3 linked regions of the Homo sapiens genome follow. The protein of the gene in region 1 purifies or fractionates together with the protein of each later gene. This does not show direct contact. Each region holds a gene or a part of one and is shown on either strand. Other genes may lie near its edges.

The links. The genes of interacting proteins can lie anywhere in the genome.
Region 2: the proteins of GPR161 (region 1) and PRKACB purify together in Homo sapiens (affinity purification with mass spectrometry; 3 studies listed by BioGRID and IntAct, with this or other methods). This does not show direct contact.
Region 3: the proteins of GPR161 (region 1) and PRKACA purify together in Homo sapiens (affinity purification with mass spectrometry; 4 studies listed by BioGRID and IntAct, with this or other methods). This does not show direct contact.

The regions. Positions count from the first base shown.
Region 1 is NC_000001.11:168,079,024-168,085,039, forward strand, and holds the end of GPR161 (G-protein coupled receptor 161), read right to left. Parts: 3' UTR 519-6,016; downstream 1-518. UniProt on the Homo sapiens protein: Key negative regulator of Shh signaling, which promotes the processing of GLI3 into GLI3R during neural tube development.
Region 2 is NC_000001.11:84,196,271-84,203,270, forward strand, and holds part of PRKACB (cAMP-dependent protein kinase catalytic subunit beta), read left to right. Parts: intron 1-345; coding exon 346-472; intron 473-1,458; coding exon 1,459-1,554; intron 1,555-6,412; coding exon 6,413-6,535; intron 6,536-7,000. UniProt on the Homo sapiens protein: Mediates cAMP-dependent signaling triggered by receptor binding to GPCRs.
Region 3 is NC_000019.10:14,107,763-14,114,762, reverse strand, and holds part of PRKACA (cAMP-dependent protein kinase catalytic subunit alpha), read left to right. Parts: intron 1-571; exon of another isoform or gene 572-607; coding exon of another isoform or gene 608-629; intron 630-2,286; coding exon of another isoform or gene 2,287-2,439; intron 2,440-6,372; exon of another isoform or gene 6,373-6,778; coding exon of another isoform or gene 6,779-7,000. Other genes in the region: SMIM46 (small integral membrane protein 46), read left to right, coding at 2,287-2,439.

The DNA of each region.
Region 1 (6,016 bases):
AGCTCAGCAAACTGGACCGTAGGGCCACCATCCACTTGGAAGATGATTTCAGTGGTAGCAGGTAAGGGGGTCAGGAAAAGGTGGGTTTCGTGCCCCGAGGTGGTTCTGAGTCTCAATGGTAACGATAATCTGCCTCTTGCCCTCTTTGACTTTTGATTATGGGGTAGAAAATACATCTGTAGATGGATAGACAGGGCATAGCTCCCATAAAAACTCTGGGTTAAGAGTGTTTCTTGGGCATGGTGAGAAGTAGGTCATTTAAACAGTTATCTGAATTTAATTGCCTTGGAGGAATTTATGAAAATGCATGGATGAGTATTTGCAGGTGACTCTGGTATGGGCACTCCCCCACCAATTCTGCAGTAATCCACCCCTTTCTGCTCAGTCTCCCTCGCTTTAGCCCATGGGAAGGGAGGTTGACAATAGGGATATGGCTGCAGAAAATGGGAGAAAGGCAGAGGCACCCAACAAAGTCCACAGACCACAAGTCCAAGTACAAATTCACCATTTCCACAGTATACACATACCAAAAACATATTTAATCAGGTAAACAAAAATTCCAAATACATTGTTGCTTATTTATAAATATTGATTTATAATAATCCTAAACTTTTTTTTAACCTTAAAAAAATCATCCAAAGACTTCAAGTTAAATATATTTCAGGATTAGCCAGGGATTTTTGTTTTTCGAGGGTTGGTTTTTAACCACTTCTTCATCCAGCGGTCTATTATGAGAACACAACACAGTCCTCTGTCCCTTAAGCATGCAGGTTCCTTCTACTGCTCTCAGTGTGGTCTTGTCTGCCAGGCCTGTGATTCTCCCTAGGACTGTCTTTTCCTCTGGGAGGACTGACTCACCTGTGATTTGTGGTATTTCAAACTAGTGAAAAAAGGAAAAACAAAAGTGGCATTTGATTCCTAAGCTATTACTACTACCCAGGAAAATGCTTGCTGAGAGAAATGAACATAGCTTTGTGTATTGCATTCTAAAAATAACACCAAAATTGTGCTTTTGTAATCTTGTGCAGATTTGAGTTTGTGCTTTGATGTTTTCAAAGGAATCTTCAAGGTATTGGAAATACTTTGGAATCCAAAGTATTTGTTAGATACTTTCCAGTGAGTCCAGTCACTTTCCTTGGGCCTTCAGTTTTTTTTAGGTCTGGCCAGCAGATATTAATATCTCCCAAGATCCTTGGTTTATAATAGTTCTACATACCTAATAAAGCCCTGCTGGCCTGTTCTGTGATACTGATGACTCTTAACTATACCTCATCTTCCTTGACCTATAAGACTAGCTCCTTGCTTTTCTCATCCCCTTGGCCAAGACTTGGAGTTTGGCTTTGACTCTGGCTTAACTTACTTTGAGACCTCAGACAATTGCCCTGGATTCTGTGTCCCCTCTCCCAACCCACAAGGACAGTATGGCTCTGCTCCTTCTTATAGGCATATATGGCTAATCACAGCCATTCTCCTTTGCCTACAGTGAAGACGGTAATTTCCTCTCTCTCCCACAGGCTCCATCTGGGGTTCTGCATATATTGTGGGTAGCATCCCTGCCCTGCCTCTTAGGGGCTTGGAGGATTAGGGATTCTGTGAACCCAAGAGCCACAGCCAGGCAGTCACTCTGTCACTACAGGACAGAGCTGTCCTCAGCAACCAAGGGCATTTCTCAGGGAGAATGTCCTTTCTGGACTGTAAGGAAGGTCAAGCTGTATTTGTGCTATGATTTGGAACGTTACACCAGGCCCTGGGGATTTGATCATCTTTGATAGTCATTCCGGACAAATTAGAATGATTTTATCTTTGTACAAACAGGCCAGTAGCATAGAGGATAGACTTTTTCTTTTTTTTCTTTTTTTAGGCGGGGTTTCGCTCTTGTTGCCCAGGCTGGAGTGCAATGGCGCGATCTCGGCTCACTGCAACCTCCGCCTCCTGGGTTTAAGTGATTCTCCTGCCTCAGGCTCCTGAGTAGCTGGGATTACAGGCGCCCACCACCACGCGCAACTAATTTTGTATTTTTAGTAGAGACGGGGTTTCTCCATATTGGTCAGGCTGGTCTCGAACTCCTGACCTCAGGTGATCTGCCCATCTCGACCCCCCAAAGTGCTGGGATTACAGGCGTGAGCTACCACGCCCGGCTGAGGATAGACATTTTTAATAGAAAATCTCATTTTGGCTCCCTTAGACTTCTCAAGTTCCAGATGCTACTTAGCCTTTCCTCCCTGCTCTCTATTGCCTGCTCTTCCTCACCACATCCCTGCTTTTCTGAAAGTCCTTCCTTGCTGTGCAACAAATATGACAAAATTCCCAAGGCAAAAACCTTTAACACCTCCCATCTAGGATAACACTTATATTTTCAAGATTCTCACTTCATTATAGAGATCCCTATAAAAAGGAATAATACACCCTCCCCACAGAGATACTGTGAAGAAACACCAGTGGCTCAGCTTCAGCTGCACCCCAGGCATTGTGCTGCATGCTTTCCAAGTATTTCCTCATAGAATCCAGACAGTCACCCTGTGACGGAGGACTCCCTCAATCCTGTGTGTCTCCACATTGAAACAGATGACTAAACTTCCCTTCACAGATGAGGAAACTCATAAGTAGTGACTTGTTTGAAAACACCCATGTAATTGGAAGCACGGGATCTGAACTCATGACTTAACCATACCCACGTCTTCACCATCCTCACTATATCACACTTGCACTGGGGTAAAATGAGATAAAGCATTTGGAAGTACCTAACACAGCACCTAGCACATCATAGGCCCTCAAATGTCAAACAGGTCAGGCCCACAGAAGGCAGTCACATGCCAGCTCACTGCCTCCTCTTTATAGCCACATCATCCTCAGTTCCTTCCAGACAGGACACAGCCAGGGCTCAAGGCTGAACACATGTTGTGAATGTATCTTGTGGTCCATCCAGAGACATGTCTAATCTGCAAGTATCTAAGAGGCATATTGTCGGGATGGAAAATATTCAGGGAAATCTGAAGAGACTAACCATCTGTCATTGTATCAAAGCATTTTTCCTCCGTCTCCTGTCTCAACCCAAATTCCTTAGCCTATCTATTGCAAATATTTAGTCTCATTGGTTGTTCACTTGTTTACAGAAAGACCACATAGTAGCTCCTCAAATAAGAATCAAGGAACATTGGCACTAGATGGCCCTTGTCTTACACTCCTCAACTCTGCTTCTCCAGGAGCAGTGATCTACCTAAGATCACTCAGTGGCAATACCTGTGAACCTGGATGGGGTCATGCATGTAAGCAGGCTAGCCAGGTGGTCCTTGGTCACCAAGGCCGTGGACTACACGATAAGGGCAAAGGAATTCAAAACAAGAGTGCCCAGCCAGAGGCAAACAAGCTCTCAGGTTCATCCTTGGCTCTGCACAGCCACACCGCTGCCACCTAGTGTCTAAGGGCCTGAACTTCAGTCTTGGTGCCTCTGGCCAGGGAAATGGCTGTGTTGAGCTGTGTGTGTGCTCTGTAATGTGGGACTCCCAATGCCTTCTGGGTCAAAACAACCCCAAACCTGGTATCTGTGGCATAGCACAGGGACCCAATAAGGCGGAAATCTCAATGAAAGAGGCAGAGGTGGGCAGCAGTCCTAAATGTGGTCTTGTCAAAACCAGAAGACACAGGACTGAGTTGTTTAAGCTAACGAGTAGCCAAATGTCCCATGTGCCACTGTCCATGTGGTCCCATCAGGAAGGCTGCAGGCCTGCCACTGCATGGCAGTTTACAGCTAAAGAGCCTGGGTTTAGTGGGGGCACTTGGGGTTTCGACCTTCTGCACTAACGGCAGATATCCTCAGAAATGCTCTCAGGAACTTCAAAATGTGTGAAAATTCTCTTTTCCTTCTCCCCCACACCCCCTTCTCTCTTTCTCTCTAGCTGAATAAAGGCAAATTTGAATTCCTGAATATGGAAAATATGGTTCTAGCTGCCAAGCATCCTTCAAGACTTAGCTCAAACTGTCACTTACCTCATGGAGCCATCCCTAACTCCATATTTGGAAATACCCACCTCCCTCTGAAGCCACACTTCTTTCTATAACCACGACTTGACTTTGCTAGTTATTAGAATCGGTATCCACAGGTCCTGCTCCCTAAATCAGAGTGCACACTTTAGTGGTATTGCCTACAGAGCCTAGCCTGGTGCTTCGCATACACTGGATGTGCAGTGTCTGGTAGACGACTAAATGAATTGGACCTCAGTAAAAAAAGGGAAACACAGTGAATCATTTTGTGAAATGCAGTATTTCTAGATTTAGATTAAATTCTATAATAGCCCAGCTAGTGTGGGGTCAGTGGGGGAGTGGGGGGCTGTCTCAGGATTCTTTCCCTAGAGCCCAGTCTAGTACAGTCAGGGGAACATTCTCCAACCCTTGCGTTTCAAAGCCAAGCTGCTGCACTCAAGAATGCCTACACCTAACCAGCAACCCATCCTAGAGATAAAGGTCTCTCTGCCCTGTTCCACCTCTGTGCACACTAGTTGATCAGGAATATGGTCCCTTCAGAAAGTAGACAAGTGCTAGAAAAAAATATATACAGGGAATATATATAGAAAACGTGAACCACACGCAGACGTAGGAATGCCATCCAGTGATGGAAGCAGAGTGTCTGACCTGCACAGGTGAACCTGCCCTCTGCTCCTTCCCACTCCCATCCAGAAGCTAGGCCAGCGCCTGGCATCCAGGTGACCCAGAATAGTTGAGTTCAATCACCACAGGTAGCAAGACTCCAGGCCTCATGAAAGGTCTTTTACAAACTGCAGACCAGGGGACCAGCTAACCATTGGTTTCTGCCACACAACACAAAAACACAACCTCACCAGGAGCTAGCTGGGCCCCAAAGAAAAAACCACAAGGGTAATTCACTTTCTAGAACAGCTGCCTCTCAGCAACCAGCAAGATCTCCTTGGAATCTACCTTCTGCCAACCAAAGCAGAGAAGTCCTGAACTTATTTAGTCATGATGCAGGCCAAGGGCAGACGCAAGAGGAGATCAGTGGCTTCCCAAGTCATCACAGCAATTACTCCAGGACCAAACTTCAACTGCTGTTCCAGCACAAAGGGAGGAGAAGAGAGGTTTAACCATCCCAATCACATTCCTGTGCTTCCCCTTCTGAGATGGTGACCCTGCCCCTCATGCATCTTGGTGGCTGGCATTCTATCCAGATTGTGCTCTAATGGACAGGGCAGACAAAGCCACAGAACCTTGATCTGCCTGCACTTCACATGTGCATGAGCAACCACACTCCAAAGTTATACAAAGGTCGGTCCGTGGGTCTGCTTTTGTGTTTTACCTATCTCTGCTTTACAAATCCTGAGAACACCAAAGGTCAGAGCTGGAAATGATCTTGGAGACCATTCAATCCAACTCCACTCTGTTTTCCCACTTTACAGAGGACCTAGAAAGGTGACAAGATGTCCAAATGACATGTGCACACAAAGACAGAGCTGGGCCAATAACCCAGGTTGCTGGCTGTGGGTCCAGGGCTGCTTCTATCTTATTTATACCAGGCTTGTGATAATAGTAACTGTTGCTCTTGGGAGTGTGCCATGCAGAACTGAGGCCAGCTATTTTCATTGGTCACTCAAACATCACACATAGAATCTATTTAATGAGGCTTTCCCATGTGAACAAATTCCCTTCCATAATAACAGTTTCTCTATTTCCTGGCTGTGCTTGGCACTACAGTCCCATTCAGTCCGGTAAAACAGTGGTACGTCTTAAATGGATTTTTTTTTTAATTCTGGAAATGAAACACCTAGTACCTGCCCTTCCTCTTGTCTTTTATAGTGGTTTCTCCCTTTTGAAATACCAAAGAACTTGTCAGTAGGGAAGTAGGCAGGGTGGGCCAGTCTGCAAGAGGCCTGTGGCTGTCCCTATTAGCACCAGCAGGTGGCGCCACTGAGGACCGCTCCGAAGCGCTCTGCTCCTGGGTGCTTTCTCTGCGGACCAGTCCTAGAACTGAGGGTCCCACACTGCCCGCATCAACCATGTAGAGGCA
Region 2 (7,000 bases), about 84 Mb from region 1:
TCCATTTGGCACATTTGCTTTCCAATTATTCTCAAGATCAGACATAATTAGAAAGACATCAATATATTTAAATATGGGCAATAATGATTCACAATGAGCTAACTATTTTAGGTTTATATTTTTCCTCAACATATGCTTCCCCATAAATTTATCAGAGCGTTATTTGAACAAAATATAGAGATTTAATAAATATTTGAAAAGTAACAAGGTTCTTTACATACTTTTTAAAAAAATACTTTTTGTTCCCAAAGTACCTCTACTTCATATTAGTTTTTATGCATAATCTACTAATTAGAATGTATTAACTCATTTTTACAGAAAATCAATGGTTTTATTTCTTTGCAGTGAGCCCCATGCACGGTTCTATGCAGCTCAGATAGTGCTAACATTCGAGTACCTCCATTCACTAGACCTCATCTACAGAGATCTAAAACCTGAAAATCTCTTAATTGACCATCAAGGCTATATCCAGGTATGACTTTAACACATTATGTGTACTGTATATGAGAAAATACTAGGCAAGACATTGTATGTATGTAACCCCAACTTGGAATTTTTTTTGAAGAAGACACTTTCTCCTAATAGTTTAAGTAGAGCTCAGAGTTTTGCTGCTATTACAGAGAAGCAAAAATCCTGTTATGAAAGGAACTTGTTTATATCTCCATTAATCTATAGTTGTGAACTGAGTATAGCCTCTTGCATAAGGAGATATTAATAGCTAAATCTATGAGCAGTTATTAGTGCCAGGCATATTCCACTTGTTTTACATGTATTATTTCTTTAATCCTGATAAACCTATGAAGTGGAAATACCATTGTTATCTTCATTTTAAGATTAACAAAACTAAGACATAGCAAGGTCATTTAGCCAATAAATGGTAGAGTCAGAATTTGAACCTAGGCAGTCTGATCCCAGAGTCCATGCCCTTTACGACTACAATATAACTGCCAAAGAATCCCTGACTACCAATACTGAACTCGTAGCAACGTTTTCTTTCCACTTCTACTACTAATAAAGTGGGAGCATTTCTTTTTACACAATTATTGATAGATTCTCCCATTGACGTTTTTACACTTCTGATGGTGCAACTAATGGCAGAGGACACATTGGGGTAAGGCAGACATTTAGCATTGTTTCATTTTTATTAATGCTATTTATTTTTACCTTTTATTTTCACTTTTTTATTCCTTGGGTCTAGGATCTTATAATAATGACTGAAAAGAGTTTTGTTGTTATTAATTTGTTCCTTTTCTTTGAGTTGAGGAAGGATTTCCAACTTGGATTGTTTAAACTTTCATTCACTAGATATTCATGAATGAATTTCAATTACGTGGACTTAATTTTTTTTCCATTTCTTTCATAGTTTCAATTTGAATTTTAAACTTTCAACGTAGGTGCAATAAATACATTTATTGTGAGGTAATACATTTTCACTAGTATTCTTTTTTTCTTTTATAGGTCACAGACTTTGGGTTTGCCAAAAGAGTTAAAGGCAGAACTTGGACATTATGTGGAACTCCAGAGTATTTGGCTCCAGAAATAATTCTCAGCAAGGTATATTCATAATATCAACACATAAGAAGTAGAAATATGAGACATGCATCCCTATGGACTTTTGTAAAAACAGTTTATTGATCTAATTTTACATTTTTAATTTGATCTAAGTTATGAATTTAAATCTATTTGTGCATGATTACTAAAGAATTATTATTTAGCATCTACCACTAATCCTGTAACCTCTGTCAATTTTAACTCTGGGTCTTAGAGATATAATATGAATAAATATGACCTCTAGATCCATGTTTTGCAACCAAAAACATAGTCTTTTCTTAATTATTCCTAGTAACGGAAGGGTAGAGAAGACTTGCTCTGGATTATACCAAGAGGTAAATCTAGAGATGATATGTACTAGTTGTCCATTCTTTCTTTGTTTCAAATTTACCAGTTAAATAAAAGGAATGTATGAGAAGTGTTTTTAAATTTTAAATAGGACTATTAACAGCAATTGAATAGTTTTAGTCTTATTGAAGGCAGCTCTGCTTTTCTAAATAGTGAAACGTGGTGAGAGAAACTGTACCTATATCCAAAAGAATGGTTAACTTTTCCTCTGCCATCACTTGGTGGAGAAATCTAGAAAGGAGAACCTAACAATAACCAGGCACAAATAGGAGAGAGGAAAAGGAAGGGGATAAGACACATGCTTCACTGGTTCCCAAATGGAATCATTGAAATATGGCTAACTTATAGAAGTGTTAAAATAAAAGATTTCTTTCAACTTTTCTCTCATTATCTTTCATAATTTAAATAATATGTAACTTCTTGATATTTTATAATCTAAATATCATTGTAGTTAACACATTTCTTTAAATACAGTTAACAAATAATGGGACAACAAAATGAGCACTAAAACTTTTACAAATGTGTATATATTGTAAAAGTAATACTCATTATACAAAATTTAGAAAATACAGAAAAACATAAACAAACAACCAAAAAAAAACCTATATGTAATCCCACCAACCTAGACGCAGCCTTTTTAAAAACATTCATATATGTATGTACATATATGTATATATGTGTATATGTGTATATATATACACCACATATATGTGTATATATGTGTATATATATACACATATGTGTGGTGTGTGTGTATATATGTATATGTGTATATATACATATATATTCATATATATGTGTATACGCATATATGTATATATGTATATGTGTATATATACATATATGCGTATATATACACATATATACGCATATGTATGCATATATATATGCGTATATATGCATATATGTATATATATGCGTATATATGCATATATGTATATATATGCATATATATATATATATACACACACATTTTAGCTTTATTTTAGCTTTCATTTTAGGTTCAGGGATACATGTGAAGGTTGGTTACAGACGTAAACTCATGTCATGGGGGTTTGTTATACAGATTATTTCATCACTCAGGAATTAAGCCCAGTACCCATAGTTATCTTTTCTTATCCTCTCCCTCCTCCCTACCTCCACCCTCAAGTAGAATCCAGTATCTGTTTTTTCCTTCTTTGTCTTCATAAATTCTCATCATTTAGCTCCCACTTACAAGTGAAAACATGTGGTATTTGGTTTTCTGTTCTGCATTAGTTTGCTGAGGATGATAGCCTCCAGCTCCATCCATGTTCATGCAAAAGACATGATCTCATTCCTTTTTATAGCTGCATAGTATTCCGTAGTGTATATGTACCACATTTTCTTTGTCTAGTCTACAATTGGTGGACATGTAGGTTGATTCCATGTCTTTGCTTTTGTGAATAGTGCCACAATGAATAAACAAATGCATGTGTCTTTATGATGAAATGATTTATAATCCTCTGGGTGTATACCCAGTAGTGGGATTGCTGGGTCGAATGGTAGTTCTGCTTTTAGCTCTTTGAGGAATCTCCATACTGCTTTCCACAATGGTTGAACTAATTTACACTCCTACCAACAGTGTCTAAGTGTTCACTTTTCTCTGCAACCTTGCCAGCATCTGTTATTTTTTGACTATTTGTTTATTTATTTATTTATTTATTTATTTTCTGGAGATGGAGTCTTGCTCTGTCGCCCAGGCTGCAGTGCAGTGGCGTGATCTCGGTTCACTACAACCTCTGCCTCCTGAGTTCAAGCGATTCTCGTGCTTCAGGCTCCCAAGTAGCTGGGACTACCGGCATGCACTACAACACCTGGTTAATTTTTGTATTTTTTAGTAGAGACAGGGTTTCACCATATTGGTCAGGCTGGTCTTGAACTCCCGACCTCAAGTGGTGCACCCTCCTTGGCCTCTCAAAGTGCTGGGATTACAGGGGTGAGCCACTATGCCCTTCCATTTTTTTACTTTTTAGTAATAGCCATTCTGACTGGTGTGGAATGGTATCTCATTGTGGTTTTGACTTGCTTGCATTTCTCTAATGATCGGTGATATTGAGCATTTTTTCATATCTTTGTTGGCCGCATGTATGTCTTGTTTTAGAAAGTGTCAGTTCATGTCCTTTGCCCACCTTTTCATGGGGTTGTTTGTTTCTTGTAAATTTGTTTAAGTTCCTCATAGATGCTGGATATTAGACCTTTGGCAGATGCATATGGTTTGCAAATATTTTCTCCCATTCTGTAGGTTGTCTGTTTACCGTTGATAGTTTCTTTTGCTGTGCAGAATCTCTTCAGTTTAATTAGATCCCACTTGACAGTGTTTGCTTTTGTTGGAATTGCTTTTGGTGTCTTTGTCATGAAACCTTTGTCCATTCTTATGTCCAGGGTGGCATTGCCTAGGTTGTCTTTCAAGGTTTTTATACTCCGGGGTTTTGCATTTAGGTCTTTAATCCATTTTGAGTTGATTTTTGTATATGGTATAAGGAAGGGATCTATCTTCAGTCTTTTGCATGTGGCTAGCCAGTTATCCCAGCACCATTTATTGAGTAGGGAAACTTTTCCCCATTGCTTGGTTTTGTCAGCTTTGTCAAAGATCGGGTGGTCGTAGGTGTATGGACTTATTTCTGGGTTGTCATAGTTGAAATCATAGTAAATATATATAGTCTTGTCTCTGACTTTTTTCACTTTTATAATAACAAGCATGCAAACATCATTCTAATGGCTTGTTTGTAAATGTACCATAAAATATGTAGCCACTCTTCTATCGTTGAGTGTTCAGGTTTTATTTTTGATTTTTTTATTATTATAAATAACTATGATAAACATCCTTATACATAAAAGTTTTTTCCTTATTTTACATTATTTCCTTAGCATATATTCCCAGAAGTAGAATTACTGGGTCAAGGAATAGGAACATTTTTAAGGCTTTTGATACATATTGCCAAATTGCTTTCCAAAGTTATTATGCCATTTTACACTTCTACCATTAGTGTATTATAGTGCCTATTTCATAACACTATCACTGGGTATACTCATTTTTAAAATATTTACTGATTTCATAGGCAATAAATTGTATCTCATTGTTTTAATTCTCATGTTTTTTATTTATTTTTCAAATGGTTAATAGCCATTTGGTATTTCTTTATGTGTCTGTAAATTATTAGTTCATTTCCTTGGCCCATTTATCTATTGTAATTTAACATTTTTCTTATTGATGTGTTTTGATTTCTATACCTTGGGTATTAACTTGTGTCTGACATATTTACTATAAACATTAGCACACAATTTAAACATATGAATCAAAAAGTTAAAGAGAGTTAATGCCTATTTCTATTAAAAAACAAAGTGCTATTCCTGTTATACCACTCCTTCCCTTAAAAAGATATACACAGTATCAGGAAAAAAAAGAGAAAAAGAAAATCTCTATAGCGCTAAAGTATTATATTTTTGCTAGAATTTTGAAAACTAAGTAGTTTGTAAAGCTAAAATTTTGACAAAAGGGTGGAATGTGGTGAGTCGTGATGGTAGAGGGTACCTCTGAGGGCAGAGCAATAGATCTGGGTAGAATTCAGCTTATTTCTCTTCATGACAGGTTTTTGGGGTTGTTAAAAAATCTCTTGTGTCAGTTGATACTGACCATAGTTAATAAACTATATTAGCATGTTAATATGAAGATGTTATTCTTATTTATTTTCTTATGAATACTTACAAATTTTAATTTTAGTAAGCTTAATATGAAAAAAACAAACATAACCTGTGATTTTTACATTTGGTTTGCAAAGCACTTTTTACACACGTTACTCCCTTTCATTTGATACAGTCCTCACAAAACTCTGTGAATTCATTTTTTTCCTGCATATCTTTTAGATATAGGAAGCAAGACAGTAGATAGCAGAAGTAAAGTATACCTAAATATTTACATGAATTGAATTTTACATTAAACTTTTTGCTTTCACAAAATCCTATGAAGCAGATGGGATTATCCCTAGCACATTCACCCTCCTAACTCCAAAAATATAGAGTATTTTGAAGTCAACTTCATTATTTACTATGTAGTCCAGTTTCTATTATTTTCTTTGAAAACTTTTGATCTTTCTAGGCATGCTGTGGAAAATCTGTTTCATAAGATTATGGACCTAGAGTGGGCCTTAAGAAGTAATGTGGTCTAACTGCCTTCCTGTTATTGAGCAAGAACTAAATTATACCAGTGAAATAAAGAAAATTTCATTGTCTATAATATTCTTAATAATTTTAGGAAGAAGATTTAATACTCTTTCCTAATATCCAATTTCAGTATCTGGAAATCCTCTCCTTTGTTTAATTTAAATCTGACCTGATACATTTGGTTCATTTTTAAATTCTGTCCTGAATAGCTGCTCAGCAATTGCTTTAAAAAAATTTTTATATGCTTCCAGATCATTTTGAAATTATCTTTGACTTCATTCTCTTTTGAGTAACTTAAGTAACAATTGACATTGGTGTTGGTTTATCTCAGGGCTACAATAAGGCAGTGGATTGGTGGGCATTAGGAGTGCTAATCTATGAAATGGCAGCTGGCTATCCCCCATTCTTTGCAGACCAACCAATTCAGATTTATGAAAAGATTGTTTCTGGAAAGGTAAGTAAAACATTTTATTATTCCTCTCTTATTACTGTATATGAATTTTAAGCTTCATGAATTGAAACTATATTGTGTCATAATTATTATTCTACATTGGGAAAAATATAGAAAAATCTACAGTTGCTGCTCTTACTATCATAAGAATTGAATCATTTCAGTCTCTTAAGAAAAAAAGGGCAGTTTTATAAAGAAATTAACAAAACAGTAAAGCAATTTCTGTATTTAGTATTTTTATCACAAAGAACAGGATCATAGCCATAATTCTCGATATTCCTTCAAATAAATAAAAATAGTTTATTATTTCATGTGTCTATCTTCATGGAGAAAAGTTTTAGGGGCTGTTTTATATGCCCTTCCATTTTCAGGAGAGACTTCTTGTTTTAATTATGTCCAATACTATAACATTGGAAGTAAAAGTAAATATAAAATGAATAAGCCTTTTTCAGATGGAAATTTATAGAA
Region 3 (7,000 bases), on another chromosome or scaffold:
CAAAGCCATTGGGAGAGCTGAGAGGGCCAAGAAAAAAGACTAAGGCCCAGGCTCTGGCCAAGTTGGAAGAATGGAGAGGGAGCAGCGGCCCCAGGGGGCAGGCGCCCAGGTCAGACAGCCAAGTGGGGCTCAGGTCGTGGCTGGCACTGGCTGAAGATACCCCTGGGAGCTGGCCCACAGGGGAAGGGGCAGAGCTAGTAAAAGGGAGCCCCCGATCCCCAGGACACAAGCAGATCCTGGCAAAGAGAGAAAAGCACCCCCCAAGAAGACCCTAGATGGGAAGAACTAGTGCCGTGTAACATCCTATGGATGCCTAAGACGGCCAAACACCTTCTGTGCCTTGGCAGTTGTATGGGTGCCCAAGAGGTCTTATCAAGGCAGCTCTCCCCTTAGCGCAACCGCGTCTACAGAAACTCGGAGGGCCCTATCTGTCCCTCCTCCACACCCAGTGGCCTCTGGGTTGGGTTTCTCTTCCTGCTCCCACCCCACGGCTCCCTAGCTCCCCCTGCAGGCAGGGTTCTGGGGACAGACAGCCGAACAGACACGGCAGGTCTCATGAGCCTTCCCAGCCACCGTAGTGCCGGTGCCCTGAGAACAGGACTGAGTGATGGCTTCCAACTCCAGCGATGGTGAGGCTGAGTCCTGTTACTATAGCAACTTCCTAGGCACACTCTGCCCCTTAAGTCAGGGAGGGGCTGCAGCGGGGTCTGGGGCACAGGCGAAGAGAAGAAGGATGTGAACCCCTGGCTGGCCCTGGAAACGCCTCCTGTACAGCCCCGGGCTGTGCGGCCTGGGGAAGAGAGAGGGGATCGGTGGCCCAGTTCAGACAAGGGAGGATGGTCCACCCGGCAGGGGGCCAGCTCAGAGAGGGGTGGTGGAGTGGTCCATCCCAGTGTTGGGGTTCAGCTCAGACTGTAGGATGAGCCATCCCAGTGTTGGGGTCCAGCTCAGAATGGGGGTCGTTCCAGCCAGTGTTGGGGTCCAGCTCAGAGTTGTGTCATTTAGGTAAGCCCAGAGCAGGGAATCCAGGCTCCACTGGAGGAATCAGCCAGCCTCGAGTAGGGGGCCCAGCCCAGGCTGGGCATTCCTGCCCCAGAATTCCCAGGACAGCCAGATTTCAAAAGGGCAGAAGGTCTGAGATTGTTGTCCGGAGGAAGGGGGTTCTGTGGCTGGGCTCCTTCCGAGAGAGACCCCAAGCCCCTTGCCCAAATTGATATTCTGCTGTTGCAATTCCCCATTCCCAGGGCGAGTTTCTAGATTTCTGCTTTCTGCTGTGGTCCTGGCTTTTCAAGGGGTGTCAAGGAGTTTTCCCTATGAACCCAAATGGAATCTGGACCAGAGTGAGAGCTGGCACCCCCCGTGTGGGAGATGTGGGCAGGGCGGCAGGCTGTACAGGCCAGCAGCTGGCTGGGTTACCATCCTCTGCCACTTCCTGTTGCTAGCAGGGGTCCTGGATGCCGGGCACACTCAAAGAGGCTGCCACTGACCCTCTGCTTCTTTTGGGATCTGGAAAGAAGGAGGAAGATGGTCAAGGCTGCCTCCCCCTCCCCCACCCCTGGGTTTAGCCGCTCGTTTCCGGTTTGGACTTTCATGGCCGAGAGTAGAGCCAAGCACAGGGCAAGGTTTGAGAGAGGCCAAGGACATCCCGGGATGCCTTTCCCCTCTCCACCCCCGCATAGGAGCAAAACAAAAGAGTCAGATATACCCATTTTCTCTCTCAGGATAGCAGGATTTGGGGGTTCCACATTGAAAGGGAGTTCAGGGGAGGAGGCAGGGTGGCTCTTGTCGCCCCCCGCCCCAAGCCTTTCTCTCCAGCTGTTCTTTCAGCGAATTAAGGGAGCTCTGGGGCCTCTTTAGCCCCTAAGGAGTCTCTGGCTGTTGCCTGATCCTGAACCTTAACTCTTTCCCCTCTGCCCAGTGGGCACTGCTCTGGGCACATCAGGCGCTGTCCTCTGCACAGTCCAGTGCCCACTGAGGAAGGCAGGGCCTGGCGTCCTGGGAGCAGTGAAGTCCGTGGAAAGGGAAGTTAGTTTTATCGCCCCGCCCTGGGGCACGCAGGCCAGCCAGAGGGACACCCTCGGGAGAATCTTCCCATTGCCTCCTGCCAAGGGAGCCCTCTGCAAACCTTGGCTAGCTTGGAGCAGGTACCTTTAAAAGCTTCTGTGGCAACCAGCTCCTCCTCCCTGGTCCCCTGAGGCCATCCCAAGGAAGCTGACTTAGAGGCTCTGCGTTTTCCTGGTTTCTCAGCAAAAGGAAGATTCCAGGGAGAGCCCAAGGGGGCTGGGGATGGATCTGGGATCAGGCAGCAGCCAGGGTGGGGACTTGGAGACCACCTTCCAGCTGTGGCTGCAGCTGCTCCTCTGGGCCCACCTGGCTGTACGTTTCCTGGGCTACCTGCACCGCACCTTCCGGGGGCCTAAGCCACAGCCAGCACCCTGAGCCTCCCTGGCCAGGGGGCAGAAGGCCGCCAGATCACCCCATCCCACCCACCCTTTATTCTACCCTTTCCTGGAAGAGACAGGAAGCAGAGGTGAGTGTGGGGCCTCTTGATTGAGGTTACCTGCCCCTCCCCCCCATCATCCCTCTCTCTGCCTGCTCCTCCTGGCACTGGCCTCCCCCATGCCCCATCCCCAAATCTGACAAGCTAACAGGGCTAGTGGCACCAGAGGGGACAGAGCCTGGGCGCTCTGGTCCTTTGAGAGGCCAGAGAAGGGCCATGCTAACAGCAAGGCACCCTGTGGAGCGACTCTGTGGGGCACCAGCGGACAGCCAGGGGCTGGGAGCTCAGCGAGTCGGGGAGGTGCAGGATTCAGCAATTCTTTCCTTTTTGCTAAGAGCAAAGGGAAAACGGACCAGACCTTTTGGATTCCCTTCAAGCCTGGCACCTCTCTGCCTTCTTGTGTGGGTGAAGGTAGAATCCCAAGAGGGCACCCTCCACCCTCCCCACCCACTGCTGAATTCTGTGTGGATTATTTGGAGGTTTCCAAGGAAGATGTTTTCTGTCACAAAGGTTCTATGACTGAAGCCAGGCACAGTGGCTCATGCCCGTAATCCCAGCACTTTGGGAGACTAAGGTGGGGGAATCCATTGAGGCCAGAAGTTGGAGACCAGCCTGGGCAACATAGCAAGACCCCATCTCAAAACAAAATAAAACACTCAAACAAAGGTTCTGCTAGTGAAAGTGTTGGATTTGGTGTGACCCCCAGGCTCAGGCCCCTGGGCTAGTTGGTGGCCCAGCCAGGCACCCATCTAGGACTCCTGGCCATTCATTGCCTATCCCCTCTCCGCCTGGTCATTTATTGTGGGGCCTTCTTGGCCACGGTCTCTCTCCATCTGCCATCTACCACTTTCTTTTTTTTTTTTTTGAGACAGAGTTTCACTCTTGTTGTCCAGGCTGGAGTGCAATGGCGCGATCTGAGCCCACTGCAACCTCTGCCTCCCGGGTTCAAGCAATTCTCCTGCCTCAGCCTCCTGAGTAGCTGGGATTACAGGCATGTGCCACCACGCCCAGCTAATTTTGTATTTTTAGTAGAGACAGGGTTTCTCCATGTTGGTCAGGCTGGTCTCAAACTCCCAACCTCAGGTGATCTGCCTGTCTCAGCCTCCCAAAGTGCTGGGATTACAGGCGTGAGCCACTGCACCCAGCCACCATCTACCACTTTCTAGCTCCATGAGGGCTCTTCTCTCTGAATGCTGAGGGAAAGCTCTGGAGACAGGTAGTGGGGGTGGCTCCCCACAAGGCCATGTGGGATTACTGGCAGGCAGATAACCAGCAATGCCAAAGGGCAAGTGTACAGGGCCCCTCGGTGGCAGCAAACCCAGGAACATCAGGGGGTTGAAGGCAGCTCTGTCCACATTGGCCACCCTGGTGCACTGGACTCAGCACTGAAACCAATGGCTGAGTTGGCAGTGAAGTAGTTAATCTCATGGGATGTGGGGGCAGGCAAGTGACCTCAGACCTGATCAGTCTTCTCCTCTGTACAGTGGGAATAACAGCAGCTCCCACCCCACAGGGTGAGAACGAAGCATAGAAAATACTCAGCAAGGGGCTGGTCCCTTGTAGCCCTAGGTGGTGGTTAAAAGGACAAGTCCATAATGCAAGAATCTGTCAGGCTGCGCATTTAAGATTTGAGCACTCAGTGTATCTCCTATATTTGTTTTTGGGGTTTTTTTATTATTACTTTTTTTTTTGAGACAGGGCCTCACTCTGTCACCCAGCCTGCAGTGTAATGGCTCAGTCACGGCTCACTGCAGGCTCTATGTCCCGGGCTTGAACAATCCTCCCACCTCTGCCTCCTGAGTAGCTGGGACTACAGGTGCATACCACCACACCTGGCTAATGTTTTTATTTTTTGTAGAGGGTTTTGATGTTGTCCAGGCTGGTCTCGAATTCCTGTATTCAAGCAATCCCCCCAACTCGGCCTCCCAGAGTATTATTATTTTTTTGAGAAAGAGTCTCACTCTTGCTCAGGCTGGAGTGTAGTGGTGTGATCATAGCTCACTGCAACCTCAATCTCCTGGGCTTTAAGCAATCTTCCTGCCTCAGCCTCCTGCTTAGCTGAAACTGCGGGCATGGGCCACTATGCTCAGCTAATTTTTTAATTGTTTTATTTTTTGTAGAGATTGGGTCTTGCTATGTTGCCAAGGCTGGTCTCTAATTCCAGGCCTCAAGCGATCCTCCAACCTCGGCCTTCTAAAGCACTGGGATTACAGGCATGAGCCACCGTTCCCGGCTCTCCCTATGTGTGTGTGTGTGTGTGTGTATATATATATATATATATATATATATATATATATTTTTTTTTTTTTTTTTTTTTTTTTTTTTGAGACAGAGTCTCACTCTGTCGCCTAGGCTGGAGTGCAGTGGCATGATCTCAGCTCACTGTAACCTCTGCCTCCCAAGTTCAAGAGATTTTCCTGCCCCAGCCTCCCAAATAGCTGGGATTACAGGCATGCGCCACCGTGCCCAGCTAATTTTTGTATTTTTAGTAGAGACGGGGTTTCACCATGTTGGCCAGGCTGGTTTCAAACTCCTGACCTCAAGTGATCTGCCTGCCTCGGCCTCCCAAAGTGCTGGGATTATAGACGTGAGCCACCATGCCCGATCGCTCCCCATATTTTCTTTTCTTTTTTCTTTTTTTTTTCTTAGACGAGTCTTGCTCTGTCACCCAGGCTGGAGTGCAGTGGTGCAATCTCGGCTCACTGCAACCTCAGTCTCCCGGATTCAAGCAATTCTCCTGCCTCAGCCTCCCAGGTAGCTAGGATTACAGGCACACATCACCACCACGCCTGGCTAATTTTTTTGTTTTGTTTTGGAGACAGAGTCTCGCCCCGTCGCCTAGGCTGGAGTGCAATGGCATGATCTCAGCTCACTGCAACTTCTGCCTCCCGGGTCGAAGCGATTCTCCTGCCACCATGCCCGGCTGATTTTTTTGTACTTTTAGTAGAAACGGGGTTTTACCATGTTGACCACGCTGGTCTTGAACTCCTGACCTCAAGTGATCTACCCGCCTTGGCCTCCCAAAGTGCTGGGATTATAGGTGTGACCCACCGTGCCTGGCCTCATTTTTTTATTTTTAGTAGAGATGGGGTTTCGCCATGTTGGCCAGGCTGGTCTCGAACTCCTGACCTTGTGATCCACCCACCTTGGCCTCCCAGAGTGCTGGGATTACAGACGTCAGCCACCTCACCCAGCCTCTCTCCCCATATTTTATACCTCAATTTAGAAAATAATAGGCTGGGCACGGTGGCTCATGCCTGTAATCCCAGCACTTTGGGAGGCCAAGGTGGGCAGATCACCTGAGGTCAGGAGTTCGAGACCAGCCTAGCCAACATGGCAAAACCCTGTCTCTACTAAACATACCAAAATTAGCTGGGCGTGGTGGCAGGTGTCTGTAATCCCAGCTACTCAGGAGGCTGAGGCAGGAGAATCATCTGAACCTGGGAGGCGGAGGTTGCAGTGAGCTGAGATTGTGCCACTGCACTCCAGCCTGGGCAACAAAGTGGGACTCCATCTCAAAAAAAAAAATAATAATAATTAAAAAAAATAAATTGGCCGGGCATGGTGGCTCACGCCTGTAATCCCAGCACTTTGGGAGGCCGAGGCGGGTGGATCACGAGGTCAGGAGATCGAGACCATCCTGGCTAACACGGTGAAACCCCGTCTCCACTAAAAAAAATACAAAAAATTCTCTGGGCGTGGTGGCAGGCGTCTGTAGTCCCAGCTACTCAGGAGGCTGAGGCAGGAGAATGGCGTGAGCACGGGAGGCGGAGCTTGCAGTGAGCGGAGATTGCGCCACTGCATTCCAGCCTGGGCGACAGAGGGAGACTCCGTCTCAATCAATCAATCAATCAATCAGTCAATAGATAGATAAATAAAAAATAATAATAGCTGACATTTATCTGGCACTATCATCACACGGGGCCACTGTTCAACTCCCTTTGTCAAGATGAACTCATTCATTCCTCAAAACCACCCCACTTTACAGATGAGGAAAACTGAGGCCTAGAGAGGTGAGATCAGTTACCCAAAGTCACAGAGTTCATCAGAGACCAGGCTGGGCTCTGAACTGGATCTTGACCCCAAGTCCTGGCCCTTAGCCACTTTGCTGGGCTGTGTCTCAGCAGAGACGAGAATGACTGTTTTCAAGCCTGTTTCCTGGGTTGTTAAGTGGAGACAATGGATACAAGGCAGGTTGCCGAGTGAGTCAGATGAGACAGTGTAGACAGCAGCCGGCACAGGGTCTGCCGGGGAAGTTTCAACATTAGCCAGGCGGTGATGTTCACCTTGGGATACCATGGGGCCGAGGAGTGGGCATCGGGCGAGACTTCCCTTGAACCAGCTCTGGAGCAATGCCCTTGCGATTGCCACGGAGAGGAACAGGGCCAGCTGGGGGCCAAGGTGACAGCTGAGCCCCCCAAGGGCACCTGCTACCCGAGCCCCCGAGGCCTCCATCCCAGGCCCGGCCTCCCCAGAGAAGGGGCCAGAGGAACAGCCAAA